2 separate regions of the Homo sapiens genome follow, and region 2 is linked to region 1. The links come from fine-mapping of genetic effects on gene expression. Tissue or cell type: left ventricle. Region 1 holds a variant in brackets; the other region holds the start of a gene. All regions are shown on one strand. Distances are from middle to middle.

Region 1 (8,110 bases):
AGAAAAATTCCTTTTTGAGGAAAACTCTGGTTAGTAAAAGTAGAAAGAATAACAGAATTTGGAAATCAACATTTTGCAATCTCCAATGATTGATTTAGATAAGGATCATAACTGGATGCTATGTCCTCTAGGTGAAAGTTACACTTGCAAAGTGTGGCTGACACCATCTGAACCAAGTGAACAAATTTAACATCATCAATAGTGGGACAATCTGACATCATGTGCCTAGTAAGATGATGCAGTGCGTTATACATGGATTATTTATGAAATGTCCTGCTAGAAGTGTTTATCCTGAATCTAATCGGGCTCCAGCTTAATTTAAAGTCTGTGAAAGTTTTAAAATATATTACCCATTTCCCTCCAGGAAGATGACCTCAATTTATACTCTCAGCAGCGTAGTAGACTGCCAGTTTCCCTGAACAAGTTAATTGAGACCACAAGGACACAAAAATACACAGGCAGTATGTGAGATATTCATCAAGACAACAACTGATCTGGATTCTTCTCAAGACAATGTCATGGGTAAAAAAAGCAAGAGAATTCTTCTACATTACAGGAGACGTGCTTGAATCCTGGACTTTTAAAAAAGCTATAAAAGACATTTTGGGACCATTGAGGAATTTTTAGTGTGGAATGGTTATAAATGATATTTAGGAATTATGAATGTCTTCGATGGTCATAATATTCTCCTATTATGGCTATATGGGAGAATGTCCTCATGTTTTAAAGATGAATGCTGAAGAATTTAAAAAAGAAAATAATGTCTGCAACTTACTTTCAAATGATTTAGAAAAATCATGTAAATAGGGCAACAAGTGAAAATACCCCAAATTCTTCTGACTCTGAAGGTCCACAAAACATACTTGAAAAACCACTGGGCTAGGCAATGAACAATCTGGATTCCCCAAATGAGTACTTATGATGGTGACTGGGTGGAGGTCCTGGAAACCTGAAATCTATCCATTTGTGTATGTCTCTCCCAGTGCCTCAACACCTGCAGTTCCTTAAGGCAGCTTCATGAATGAACTTGTTCCCACTGGTTCTTTTTCTGACATGTGAAAGCTTTTATAATCTCAGATCCTGTCTCTTTATCTCATAATAAAGAAAGCTCCCCTCAGCATCTATGTCAACACAGACAAAGGGTTCAATCTGCCAAAATGCCTCAGCAAAGTCTGGCTCTTGACTACAACTGGGGTGTGGGATGAGGTGGCTTTTTCCTCTGATTTCACAACCTCTAAAGGAAATGGATTTTTATTGTTTCTTTTTCTTCTGTAAGCTAAAGGAACTAGGGCTCTAGAGTGGCTTCTACCACTAAGTTCCATCCTTCAACACCAACTGACTCAAGAAAAAACAGTGCAATAAGAGACCACAAACAACTTCCTGAAACACGAAAATAAAATGCATATATTTTCACCTGAATATTTAGAACAATAGGACTTAGCATTAGAAGACTGGGTTCAAATCCTGATTCTGCTTTTAACAAGTAGTGGACGGGTTATGGACAACTAATATCCTAAGCCTCAGTTATTTCACCTGAAAATTGGGGTGCTAATGATAATAAATGCTATGGAAATAAGATGAATAATAGCCATGGAAATAAGATGAGTTAATGGCTATGAACGTGCTTTGTAATATGAAAATGCTATAAAATGATCCTAGCTAGTCTAGTTAACTGAATTAATAAATGAATAATCTGAAGGCCAACAAGGACATGACTTGATTGACATTACAAAGCAAATTTATTTATCTGTTCAATACATTCTCTCCTGGGTTAGGACTTACACTAAAATATGGAGGTTAACTAGACTGTCCTCTTACTACATGTAGATGTATTTGTAGAGATCCATATAGATACATAAGAAATACAGCTGTCTCGCCAAATTTACTGAGTCATCCCAGCACCATACTAAGAGTTTGGGTATATTACTTCACTGAAGCTTATGACTGTCCTATGAGAAAAGTCCTATTATTATCCCCATCATATGAATAAGAACAGTGAGGATACAAAAGGAGAGATTATAAATGCCTGAAAAATATCAGTGAGAATGTAGGAGAAGAAATGGACTTTAGATTGAGCAGGTTGAATACACAGAACATAGAAAACCAATGGGATATAAGGATTAAGGAAAAAAGAGATGACAAGAAACCATGTTGCTATAATTGAGCAAATATTAATGCTATACAGAGGGAAGAACAGGTTGGTGGGGAAAATTTCCATTCATTTAACCAATATTAACTGAGCACTTAATATGTGTCTGACAATATTATAAGCTCTAGGGATATAGCAATAAAAAATATTGGTAAGAGTTCCTATTTTCCTGAACTTATATTCTGGGAACAGGGGAATATGTTCAAGAATTGTTATGTTCTTGATTTTTTGAGGCGCTCATTGAACATTTGGGTGAAGATGTCCAGGAAATACCAGGAAATAGTTGGAGAAATGGGTTTAATTCTCAAAAGAGTTGTTTAAATGAGAGATGAACTTGGGAAATCTTCAGTGTATAAATGGTGATTGAATTTATGAACATGAATGAGGTCACTCAGGCACAGAATATAGTTCCAGAAGAACAGCAGGCTAAAGGTGAAGCCCTTGCAATGCCAATATTTAAGAAGAAGAGTCCAAGAAAGAGATGAAGCAGGAACAGTTAGACAGGTAAAAGGAATGGCAGAAGAGAATGATATGATAAAAACCAAGGAAAGAGAAAGTTATAAGAAGGAATGGTTAGTAGTTTCAAATGCTGTTAAGAGATCAATATGTATAATGAACAACTGAATGTGGCACCCAGAGGGTCCCTATGATTATGGCAAAGGCAGCTTCAGGAGAGAAGTTGGGGCAGGAGGCCAATGTAGTATGTGGAGGGGTGTCTAGAAGAAAAGTCTGTAAAAGCCTCAATTAAAGTGAACTTTTCTGTTGAGAACTTAACCTGCCAGCATGGGCAACATAGCGATACATCATCTTTACAAAAAATAAAAAATTAGCCAGGCATGGTGACACGCACCTGTGTTCCAGCTACTCTGGAGGCCAAGGCAGTAGGATTGTTTGAGCTCCGGAGTTTAATGCTAAAGTGAGCTGTGATCGGGCTACTGCACTCCAGCCTAGGTGACAGAGAAAGACCCTATCTCAAACAAACAAACAAACAAAAACAACAACAACAACAAAAAACTTTATCTGGAGAGAAATATTAATATAAGCAACAGGAGACCAAGAGTGAGGTATTGGCTTTTAAAATAGAGGAACAATGTCAGCGTGTTTGACTGCTTGTGAGAAAGGGTCAGTAACAGAGAAGCTGGAAGAGAAAAGAGAAGGAAAAATGGGTGAGGCCACTGTAGAGACAAAGAGGAGGGATCCAGAACACCCTCCTCCTGACCCTGGACGCAGGGAAGGTGGGATGTAGAAGAGAAAAAATGAGTGAAAGGGAAAGACTCCAAGTTGAGGAAGTTGTTGCTGATGGCTTCTGCAAGGAGGAGGTAATTTTACCTATATTTTCTCACTTTCTTTTATGACAGTTTTTTGAGACAGGAACTCAAAAAATAGTTTTTTGAGAAACTATTAGTGTCCTCACTTCATTAATGAGGAAACTGAGGTTCAAAGAGGTTAAATGACCTGCCCTTGGAAATTTGCAGGGTCAGAATTCAAACCCAGACATTTCACTCAAGTCCCCTAGTCTTTCTTAATGATCACTAGAGAGAGAAATTTAAGGAAAAGAAACATCAATGCCTTCAAACCCAAGAAACCTTCAGAATGATGGTAACCACTGAGAGAAAAGAATAAAATGGACAGGAAAACAGGATAGAGCAAAGGCTGTAGGTACAATAATCGTAATAAAAATGGGTATTTATCTATAGCGTTATCTCTTTTTTCTCCCTATAACAAATAGTTAAACAATATAAACTATGTAAAGGGGCATGAGAAAATAGAAACTGCAAGGCTCGCTTCTAAGGAAATGATTGTTTTGTAAATATATCGTAAGAATTGATCATTAAAACAACATTTTGTAATTATATTAGTTTATGGCAGACAAGAATAATTTATTCAACAAAT[A/ATT]TTTATTGAGTATCTACTATGTGCCAGATAGTGCTCTAAACCCTGGACATATAATAGTGAATAAATCAGACAAGAGCTCTACTTTTTTGGAGTCTACGTTCTAATGAGAAGACAGGCAGGAAAATAGCAGATTAATCAGCAAATAGCTCAAGTAAAACCAGATGAGGAGTGCTACTTTAGAATGGGTAGTGGAGTGAAATTCTGAAGACATGACATTTGAGTTGAGACCTCATGAACAAGAATCAGTTATATGGAAATCTGAAGCAACACACTTAGGCTGAGGGAACAGTGAATGTCAAGGTTCTGGAGTAGGAGCCACCTTGGCATGTTCAATGAACAGCAAAAAAAAAAGCGTGATGAGCACAGGGAGGACAGTGGCAGGAGATGAGGCTAGAGACATGGGCAAAAACCAGACATGTAGAGCAGCAGTTCTCAGTCCTCGCTGCTCACCAGAATCCCCAGAGGAGCTTTAAAAATATGGATGACTGGGTCCCCACTCCCAGAGAAACTGATTTAATTGGTCTGAGGTGGGGCTCAGGCATAGATCTTTTGAAAAATGCCCTGGGGATTCTGATGGATATCCAAGGTTGAGACTAATATTGAGACTTCTAGCACTTTGGGAGGTCATGGCAGGCACATCACTTGAGGCCAGGAGTTCGAGACCAGTCTGGCCAACATGGTGGAACCCTATCTCTACTAAAAATATAAAAATTAGCCAGGCATGATGGGGCGCACCTGCAATCCCAGCTATTCAGGAGGCTGAGGAATGAAAATTGCTTGAACCGGGGAGGTGGAGGTTGCAGTGAGCTGAGATTCTGCCACTGCACTCCAGCCTGGGCAACAGAGCGAGACTCTGTCTCAAAAAAAAAAAAAAAAAAAAAAAAAAAAGAAATACCTGAAAAAAAAGAAAGAAAAATAAATACCTGAGACTGGGTAACTGGGTACTTTATACAGAAAAGAGGTATATATACACACAAATATACACATATATATATTTCAGAAAATTTTTTAAAAAGAAGAGACTTCCAGATATTCTGTAGTAAAGAGAATATAGGTGAAAGACTGTGTGTGGAAGCAGAGAATTAATGTAAGTTGAACCTGGTAAACAGAAGAATCATTTCAAATAACATTCCCCCACAGAGAAATTTGAGCAATCTTAATTGCCAGACCTCCTGAGAACATAAAAGCTTTACCTGCCAAGAAAACTTGGCTCAAGAAACACCAACTAATAAAATGTAAGACTTTCTATCTTCCAAGCTAACTAACATGTATTGAATTGGTAATATGTACCAGATATTGTATACTAAGCAATTCACTAGATGGTCTAGTATCTTCATAACAATTTCATCTTATCTGTGAGTAAGACCCAATTTAGAGATGACAGTACTCATCTTGGAGAGATTTAGTGTCTTATGTAATGCCACACAACTATTAAGTAGCAGAGGTGCGTCTCTCTGATTCGAAGTCTATGATCATTGCTGCTGTAAGACCTAGTTTGCTGAGGTTACAAAATGGCCAGTCTAATATTTAAACTACTGCTCTCTAGGAAAGTGCTCTTGGGTTCTGTTATGAAAAACTACCACCAGCCGGCCATGGAGGCACATGTCCTTAGTCCCAGACACTCAGGAGGCCGGTGTGAGAGGATCACCTGAGCTCTGGAGGTTGAGGCTGCAGTGAACCACAATGGCACCATTACACTCCAGCCTGGGCAATAGTGTGAAAAACTGTCTCAGAGAAAAAATGATTTCCCAGAGATTGGCAAAGAAAAAAAGGAGGAAAGAAACAAAGTTGAAAGAAAGAAAGAAAGAAAGAGAAAGAAAGAAACTTCCAGAAATAAAATCAATCTAGAACACTGTGGTAAAACAACTGTGGTAGTTATTACCCAGCTATCCACCCCTGTATTAGTCCATTCTCTTATTGTTATAAAGAAATACCTGAAAAAAAAGAAAGAAAAATAAATATCTGAGACTGGGTAACTGGGTAATTTATACAGAAAAGAGGTTTAATTGGCTCATGGTTCTGCAGGCTGTACAGGAAGCATAGCAGCTTCTGCTGCCTGGGGGACCTCAGGAAACTTACAATCATGACAGAAGGCAAAGGGGCAGCCAGCACTTCACATAGCCGGAGCAGGAGGAAGAGAGATGGGAGAAGGTGCTACATACTTTACACACTTTTAAATAACCAGATCTCATGATAACTCACTGGCTATCAGCACCCATGATCCAATCTGCCCCCATGATCCAATCACCTCCCACCAGGCCCCATTTCCAACACTGAGAATTATAATTCAACATGAGATTTGGTGGGGACACAGATCCAAAGCATATCAACCCCCCAGATAGTACTACAATTTCCACTTGGGCCTTGTGACAAGCTCTGGCCAATGAATTATGAGCTGGAATGATGTATACCATGTCTAGGCTGGAGCACATAATTGCTTCCTTTCCCACACTTATGATGGGCGATCCTTCAGATAATGGTTGTTCTATCAGCCAGGTCACAGAAGATCTCTCAGCCAACCCATGCTGAACAAGTAGTGAGAGCAAAAGATTGTGATGTTATAGACCACGGAGATTTGGGGGATTCTTTATTATGTAGCATAGCGTAGTTCATCCTGACTGATACAAACTGCATCCTTCCTCTCTGAGTTTGTCTAGAGATGACAAATTACCAGCTCTACTTATGCATCACACATGCCCAAAAGTGTGTGTGTGTGTTGTGTATGTGCTTTATTTTGTTGCTAATAAATCTATTAAAAGTGGAAAACTCTAAGTCCATCAGCAGAAAACATTCCTGTAGATATTTCTTCAGTACAAAGGATGTCAGTTGTTCAATCTGACAAGGTAATTAATGAATGAGAAACTCCAGAATAGCCACATCCAGACCACAAATACCTCCCTTGGAGAAAGATGCATATGTGGGCCAAGCAAGGGCAAAAGGAAGGTCCCTAAAGAAGAGCCCACACATGTTGATGTTGCTCTGGGAGAAATATATTAATTTATTTAACAAATAAAAAAGCTACTATGTTCCAGGCATTGTCCAAAGTGCAAAAAATAGAATAGTGAACAGAACAGACAAAAATCTCCCTTTTTATAGAGTTTATATTCCAATGGCGTGAGGGAAGATAATGACATGGCTCTAAAAACATTTAATTGTTCCAGTATAGACTTTCCCCATTTCTCATGATCTGTTCATCCAGCTGAATAAATAAGAAATGTGACAAGCCCATCACCCCCCACTTACTGACAGGGTAAAGTCTGAAGCAATATATGGGGTAATCCAACCTACACCATCTGGGGCCCTGAAATGCAGATCATTAATTTGGATTAAACCCTTAAATACTGGTTTCTGATTTCCATTCATAGGAAACAACAGCTCTTTCTTCTTCTGGCTGCACCTGGGGTTCTGCCCACTGGCCTAGAGGAAGAAATGGAATTCATGTTTTGATCACCACATCTGGCATCTGAATCCCTTCATCTTCTTGAAAACCTCTGAAGATCTGAGTACTGTTTAAGAGCAGACTCCCTAAGGCAATTATCCTCTCAGGCCAGAAGTCTCAGGAGGTAGAGGTTGGAGTCTATGGTAGCACCATCTTTGACTCACTGGTCTGTCTGCATAGAAAATACTGCAACTCATGTTTAGCTATTGTCTAATGTATGTGCCATCAGCTCCTAAGGGGACAAAGACAGAGTGACAGCCCCTTCCTGTGACGGTTACTATGGGACTGAACGAAGGAGGACGAATGCAGAAATGAAGACAAAGACAAAAGATCTGTTTTAAAAGAAGGGGTGGGGGGCTCCTTGTTTCTAGTGAGCAAGGGCCCTGAGCTTCTACAGCCCTTTGTATTTATTACGTAGAATCAACAGGGAGGAAAGGTAATGGTTGGTCAGCTGCTTGATTTATCACAGGTTCACCTAATTGCTTTTTTTATACTACAGGCTTCAGATATTCCTATAGATAACCACAAGGAACACTGCGCTTGGGGCGTGACTGCCTCAGCATTCCTTCTGGCAGCAGATGCAGTTTGCCAGTTTGCCAACTCCCGCTTTCATGAGAACAGTTTGCTAT
Region 2 (8,110 bases), 180 kb after region 1:
CTAGCAGCTCCGCAAACCGCCGAGGAAAACCCGCTGCGACACACACCCCAGCAGCTCCTCGCGTTCCGCGCTCCGCCCTACTCCACATCAGCGGCGTAACGGAAGCCGACCAATGGCGGGCTTGGACCCGCCGCGCCAGCGTGGCCACGTCCCGCTCAGGCTCCGCCGCCTGCTCTTGGCTCCGGGTAGCCGGCCAGGGCGGACACTTAACACTCGCGTCGGCCGCGGCCGGCCCTCCGCGCAGGCAGCCCTGGAGGCGGCCCCGCGAAGCTCAGGAGCGCCCCTGCGACGGGGAGGGCGGACTGCGCAGTGCCGCGCCCGGGCAGGGACCTGGAGCCGCCGCCGCCCACCGGCCCTGCCGCCATCCCCCCACCGCCGCACGGGAAGCGGAAGTGGGTGCGGGACCGCGGCGCGCCCAGCCCGGCCAGCTCCCGCGCCCAGCCCGGCCCTTGAATTCATCTTTTTATGGCTGCATAGTATTCCATGGTGTGTAACACATATATATTTTTAATTGTATTTAATTCTTTGATTTCTGTATCTTGTAAGTTTTTATTAACCGATTTTTCTATTTGCAAAAATACAATATCCATATTTTTTCAGTGAGACATTTTACGTTTGGAAACTATCTTTATCTTTTTTCTTTTTTTTTTTTTTTGAGATGGAGTCTTGCTCTGTCGCCCAGGCTGGAGTGTAGGGGCACGATCTCGGCTCACTACAACCTCCACTTCCTGGGTTCAAGCAATTCTTCCACTTCAGCCCCCCAAGTAGCTGGGGTTACAGGTGCACACCACCACACCCGGCTAATTTTTGTATTTTTAATAGAGATGTGGTTTCACTGTGTTGGCCAGGCTGGTCTCGAACTCCTGACCTCAGGTGATCTCCCCACCTTGGCCTCCCAAAGTGCTGAGATTACAGGCCTGAGCCACTGTGCCCGGCCGGATTTGGAAATTCTCTTTATCTGAAGGAGAAAAATGTCAACGAAAAATGTAATATGAAATGCATAAAAATAATTTGGACACCTTTATTTACAGGGTATAGCTATTGAAGGTCCAACATTATTTTTACATGTTCTATTTCCCTCAAAATATGCACTTAGGGTAGTGAGTAGGGGAAAGGTAGAATAGAGGATTGTAAGCCCAAAAGTTATCATCCATCAGAACTCACTAAAACTGCTGATGAGAAAGCAGGAATTCAGGAGCAGGATGCAAGTTACCACAGCAGAGAAAAGGTTCTGATGACAGCAGCATCTTCCAAAATCTGGAGAAACAAAATATAGCAGGGTAGAATTTCATGTCTTTCTAAGAAATGTTAGATGACCTCAATGACTTAAATCCAAAATAAAATAGAAGGAGTAAGATGAATTATTCTTCCACCTGTCAAGGATACCGCACAAGAAAGTCCTTTTCCCAGGAAAAGCCACAGGACTAGCTCCTGTTTGTGATGGAAAGGCACCAAGTGGTTTGTAACAGGGCAGATATTTTAGCATGTGATTCATTGAAAAATTGCATTCTGTGTCCAAATATATTTTGTGGCTGTTTGGGGTAATTGATTAGCATTTTGGGTTACTGAGTAATTTTTACTTCTCAACTCTTTGACCCTCTCCTCATTTTTACTGTTTTTCCTCCTAACGTTATCCCCCTACTTTGTTCATTCATTTGCTCCTTTATTGAGTATGACATATGTACCCGATCTTGTGCTTCATTATGGGAATAGAGGAATGAATAAGTGTTCTTGCCTGTATTCCACTCAGTGGCTTGTGACTGGAATGTACAAGCAAATCAACATTTGGAGGTCACTATAATAACTGCTGATTGAGCTCATGATTATTTACCAAAGCTATCCACTTTTCTTCAGGGTCACTATTCTATTATTCCTACAGAATCTTGCCACTTCCTCACTTCTCCCTGTCTTTTCAGTCATGCTCAGTTCTGCATCTAATAAAGTTTATGCTACACGTGTGGGGAAAGAATGAACTAAGATAGGCAGGAGCAATACACAAGCGAAGGAGTTGAGAATTTATTCTGAGAGTTATTTGGAGACTATAAAGAATTGAATCAGTGTAATAAATAAAATTTACATTATAGAAAGATTATTTTAAAAGCAGATGGGATGATTAATTCATAGGGGTAAATAAATGTATAAGAAATACTTTAAAATAATATTTATCATCCTGTTTACTTGAGGGGTATGTAACAGCTGTAACTGTTAGAGAACTATCTTAAATAGTATTTTCATTAGTATCTTATGGAAAAGATGAAGTCAGAGTTAAACTGAGCATGTGTAATCCCAGACAACAAAAAACAAAAACCCTAAGAGGACAGAAGGAACAGTACCCATCGGGGAAAGGCCCATGCTGCTTGGGCTACGCAAAAGCAGAGACAGAAGGCGCAACCTGCTTTGGTGGACATCTTTAGTTTTTCAAATGATGCTTTGAAACTAAAATGGATCCCGGGCACTTCTCTAAGAAGTAATCCCAAGTGAGTTTGGCAACAGTCAGTAATAACCATAGAGGAGACTTTATTATTACAATTATCATCAGTCACATCCATCATTCTTGGAAAATGTACCCAAATCAAGAGAAAACCCTCCCTATAGAACGAAACAGGGAGAAATAAGTGTGGAATGGGCAATTAGTGTCCCAATTTCCTTCTTTTCCATCTTGTCCAAAACACTTTAAGTTGGTCTTCTTTTTTCTCTTATTTCTTTTGTTCCTAATAAGAATATTTAGTTCCATCAAACCTCATGTGTAGGATTATCCTAGGAGGCCATTTCATCTTCCTAAATCCTTCCAGGAAACTCTGAGTGCCCATTTGTAAGAATGGTTAGAGCTAAAGATGAACTATAAAGAAAAAAGAATAGTAAGCTCTGACACCAGCACAATCAAGATCTGATGAACGTGAACAAATAGTGCAGTAGGAAATTCTTGAGAAGGAGAATTAAAGTATAATTGCCAGAACTTGTGACCTTCTATATATCTAATACCATCTCACCAATTCAAGACCTTCATCTTTCCCATTCCTTTTCTAATTAGATACATGGCAGACAGCATGTTGAAAGTTAAATAATATTATCTTTTAAGTAACACACATGAATTATGAAGAACTGTAATTCATTAAGATGAGCCTTGCTAGATAGAAGGCAGCCAAGCTTCTCAAACTGTAGAAACCCTTTTTCAAAAAGGAGGCTTTGAAAAATATCAGAACTTCTGCTGGTTTTCTAGAAATGTGCTGGTCTTTAGTCATAAGCAAAACAGTTACAAAATATTAAGTTGACTTGTAGTAATTGCACTGAGGAATGGCACAGAGACACAATGCCAACAGGAGTAGCACTGCATTTTCAAAAGCCTCAATCCTATTTAGGAGTTATAAGTCCCAAATACAGCAAAAACCTCCCTTCGTGATTCTTTATTTCCACGAAATGTCTATGAAGTGCAAGTGCAAAGGTTACTACTAATTTCAGATGTGCTGTGAAAGACTTCTTAGCCATGTATTCCTTTCTTAGTCCTTACTCTTTAGGGTCCATCAAAGACTTGTTCTTTGTTTTTTATCATAATGTCTTCTTATTTATTTGCTTTATTAAAATTTATAGCAGAAAGATCAAGGGCTCAGACTTAGCTGGTCCTGAATTTAAATTACACTTGAGATTCTACTACATGACCTTACATAAGTCAGTTAGTCCTTATAAGTCTTCATTTTCCATCTACCAATGGAGACAATAATATCTATAAAATAGGTTACATGTGTGAATTAAATTGAGATGACCTAAAGCATTTACTGTAGTACCTGGCACTTGATAACAATAAGTTTCTAATTTATCCCTTCTTTCTATTTCCACAACTTCATATCCTTGTGTGACTTCTAATCTCCAGTCTTTATAATACATTTTCTGTTTACTTTATTAATGTTTTCCTCCTTTCTTGGATTTCAGTTTTGCCTCCAATATTGCTGCTACTCTAAGTTCCACAAAACTTTCAATTTTTTTATATTTCTCATGTCCTGTTTTCTTTTTACCTTACTACATAATATTTATATCTGTTTGTTGTTACACATATTCTTAGTATACCCACCATCTCCCAAATGGCAGAGCAAAATAAAAGCAAAACCTTACCAATATGCCACGAGTTTTGAGGCAGCATCATTATGGGTCTATCTCTTCCTGAGTCCTGATGTAACTCCTGGGTCCTCTTATATATAATCTCAGAACTGCTCATGAGGTGAAAACAGATCTGCTATTTGGAAATGACAATACTGTAAAATTGAGTTCATAGTTTTCCAAAGGGGAAGTCATTATAAAAGCTGAGGTTGTTTTTTCTTTGCTACTTCCTTATCACGTTAGGATATGGAAAACAAAGGAAGTTAAATAATATGCCTGGAAAGTCTCACAGAATAAAGGGAACTGTAAATTGCCACTCTAAATTTTCAAAAAGACTCATGTTTCACATTTAAAAATTTTTGTTCCATAAATGTGATCTTGTCAGCACAGTTTTATAGATATTTATCTAAAAGATAAAATATATCATCAGGTTTGTTTACTTTAGCATACATATTTCAACCAGTTATGCTAAAAGGATCAGAAGAGGTTACATTGCTGAAAACTGGCTAGTCTACGAAAGCTTTGCTGATGAAACATGAGCACAGATAAACATATTTGAAAAAATTTCATGTCTATAAAAATGTTTAACAAAATGGAGTCCTTTAAAATTAGTTTTTTATTGTTAATGATTATGTAAAAGAAAATAAAGCTTAGTCATCAAATGAGTTTGGAAAACATTCATTTAAATGATTTCAACCATTAGGTAGAAAACCATGAGTGGCTTCTGAGCTCATAGTGATTGTTCTGTGTTCGGATAGGCCTGTATGTCCTGCCCTGCTTCTTTGGGAAAATTGCTTTTTCCCTTCCTTGATATGTTAAGAATGGTAGATCACATCTTTTCACACGCCCACGTCTCCCCGATTACAGTGACAAGTTCAAGGAAAAGCCAATGACCCAAGTGAGCCCATCAGAGTGTTTGCCAGGATTTTTCGTCCTATACTTCCATGTCGAGTAGGCCTATTAGTAAAAAAGAAGCTAATATATACAGAAATTAAAATGAGATATAAAATATCTAAATACTTTAGATAAATAAGTCCTTATAAATCTCCATTGATAAATTCAAGAACTTTATTTTTTCTTGTCCCTTTTCAACTTAGATACCTGACAAGGCTTTATATAACAGAGGTTAAATAAAATTCTGCTGCAATTAATGCCAAATGTATTTTGAAGTCCAATTAAACATCGGAGCTTGCTAGATATGAGCGAGATGTGCCTCTGAAATGATAAAGTGCCATTCTCAAAATATAGTCTCTTTCTTACTTCTCAGAACTGAGGTAGGTGCCCAAAGTCAGAAGAAATCAGGAGGAAAACAGGGAGAATTTTTTCTTGGAAAGCTTGAGATGAAATGTCTTTGGGGAAATGTAATTCACTAACTAGGATAAGTCACATGATGGAAGAATGGAAGACACAAAAAGAGGATGCTGAAACTTGTTTTAGTATATTATTTCTCAGCCATGCTGAGAAAATTTCCTGAAATTTTTAAAATACAGTATGACCGGAAACGCTTTCATGCTAACAGAATCCATAGCAAACTAACTGCTGATAAAATGATCTCACAGAAGTGGGAACTGAAAATAGAAAACAATGAAAACCTGATTATTGCTATTCTTTGATAGAATAAATGTCTCCACAATATCTCTGCTACTGTTTTGAGTTTCTCCCATTTCTAGACACCCAAGTTCTCTCACTCTCAAATATTTCGTAGCAGGTTCTAATCTAAATGAGTCCCTTTCTTGCCTTTATGATAAAAAAGCATAAGGGATGTGATAACTATCTCTTTGGGGAAATAGCTGGATATTCTGCTTCAAGATCTCACACAGGGCTATAATTACATTGTAAACTGGGGCTGTGGTCTCACCTGGAAGCTTGACTGAGGAAGGATCTGCTCCCATGGCCACTGCTATTCCATGGACTGAATTGTGTCTCCTCAAAATTTATAGATTAAAGCAATAACCCCCCAGTGTGACTATGTTTCAAGACAGGGCCTTTAAGGAGGTAATTAAGGTTACTTGAGATTATAAGGGTGAGGCCCTAATCCAATAGGATTGATGTCCTTACAAGAAGGGACACCAGAGCTTGTTCTCTCTCTTTCCACAAATGTGCAGAAGAAAGGCCACGTGAGGACACAGACAAAAAGTGGATGTCTAAAAGCCAGCAAGAGAGCCCTCACTAGAAACCAAATTTCCTGGTACCTTGATAATGAACTTCTAGCCTCCAGAAATGTGAAAAATAAATTTCTGTCATTTTTAAGTGACTCAGTCTACAGTACTTTGCTATGTTGATCCAAGCAGACAAATGCAGATGTTGGTACTGAGAAGGGAGATGCTTCTGTAACAGATAACCTAAAAATGTGGAAGTGCCTTTGGAACTGGGTAGTGAATAGAGGCTAGAAAAGTTTTCAGGTGCATGCCTGAGAAAGCCTAAATTGCCTTGAAGGGACTGTTAATAAAAACATGAATGCTAAAAGCAATTCTGATGAAGTCTTCCATGGAAGTGAGGAACATGTTATTGGAAACTGCAGAAAAGATGATTTTTGTTTTAAAGTGGCAAAGAACTTGTCTGAATTGTGTCTTAGTGTTTTGTAAAGTGTAGGACTTGTGAATTACAACTTTGGATTTTTAAAAGGGAAGATATATAAGCAAAGTGTTAAAAGCACAGCCTAGTTTTTCCTAATTGCTCATGGTAAAAGGCTAGAGGGGAAAGATAAATTGACAGCATTGTTAAGCAAAAAACAAAAACAAAAGCAACCCAGAAACTGAAGATTTGGAAAAATCTCGGCCTATTTATATAGCAAAAAAATGATAAAATGTGTTCTGGAGAGAACATCAATGGTGTGGCGCCTCAATCACTCCATAGGGAAATTAACCATGACTTTTTTCATCCACCTTAGCGGGAGCCTTGAATAGAGATGGGATTATATCAGCAGAGACCCTGCCAGTTTGGACCAAAGAGAATAGAAATGGGTTGAAATAAATCATGGAAAGCTTTCTGACTTCTGAGATTCTGTAGGATGAAATAATAGAGATATTCAGCTGTGAACATGCTTTATCCTTCAAGGAAAGGGATAAATGACCTTGAAGGTGATTCAGAGGTCATCAGTGCTGTAACTCCCACTATAGGCCCAGAGGAAAGGCTGTTTTGTCCTCAGTTTCAGAGGATGGGACCATCTCCTCAGTTTCAGTAGACCAGGCTGCCTCCATCCGTGCCTGAGGAGTGGAGCAGCCACAAAAAGTTTTAACAGTCTGCTACTTACAGCTGTGGTGGTGACAATGCCACCCCAGTGGGCCTGGAGGGCAGAGGATTCAGCCAAAGATAATTATTGTTGAATCTTAAGATCTAATGGAATTTGCCACTTCTCCTTTTTGGAATGAGAATGTCTGTCTTATGCCTGTCCCACTACTGTTTTTTGGATGCACATAACTTGTCTGGCTTCACAGGTTCACAACTGGAAAGGAATTTTGCCTCAGGATGAATCATAACTTGAGTCTCACCCATACCTGATTTAAATGAGACTTTGCACTTTAGACTTTAGAATTGATGCTGGAAAGGGTTAAGACTTTATGTGTTGTTGGAATGGGATTAATATATTTATCATGTGAGAATAACATGAATTTGGGAGTGGAGGGTAGAATGTTACGGAATGAATTTTGTCCCCCACAAAATCCACAGGTTGAAGCCCTAATGTGACTATATTTGAAGATAGGGCCTTTAGGGAAGTAATTAACATTACATAAAGTTATAAGAGTGAAGTCCTAATCCAGGATTACTATCCTTATAAGAACAAAACAAGACACAGAGAACTCTCTTCACACATGCAAAGAGGAAAGGCCATGTGAGGACACAGAGAGAAGGTGGCTGTTTGCAAGCCAGGAAGAGAGCCCTCACCAGAAACCAAATTTGCTGGCACCTTGAACATGGACTTCTAGCCTCCATAACTGTGAGAGCATAAATTTCTGTAGCTGAAGCCACCCAGTCTGTGGTATTTTGTTATGACAGCCAGAGCAGACTAATACAGTCC

What was found. PIP is the estimated chance that this variant, and not a neighbour inherited with it, causes the effect.
Region 2: CD163L1 starts here. The variant in region 1 is fine-mapped to the expression of CD163L1 in left ventricle (GTEx, PIP 0.93).

The regions. Positions count from the first base shown.
Region 1 is chr12:7,257,372-7,265,481 of GRCh38, forward strand. No RefSeq gene overlaps it. Among named protein-coding and RNA genes, the nearest start is that of ACSM4, 43 kb to the right of the region's middle. RefSeq lists a silencer at 1,739-1,939. The variant A/ATT (reference allele first, on the strand shown) is at 4,043.
Region 2 is chr12:7,439,990-7,448,099 of GRCh38, forward strand. CD163L1 (CD163 molecule like 1) reads right to left here and starts at 4,164. Exons shown (of 20, transcript NM_174941.6): 1 at 4,108-4,164; 2 at 1,165-1,257. The coding sequence starts at 4,138. It also overlaps the pseudogene LOC100419928.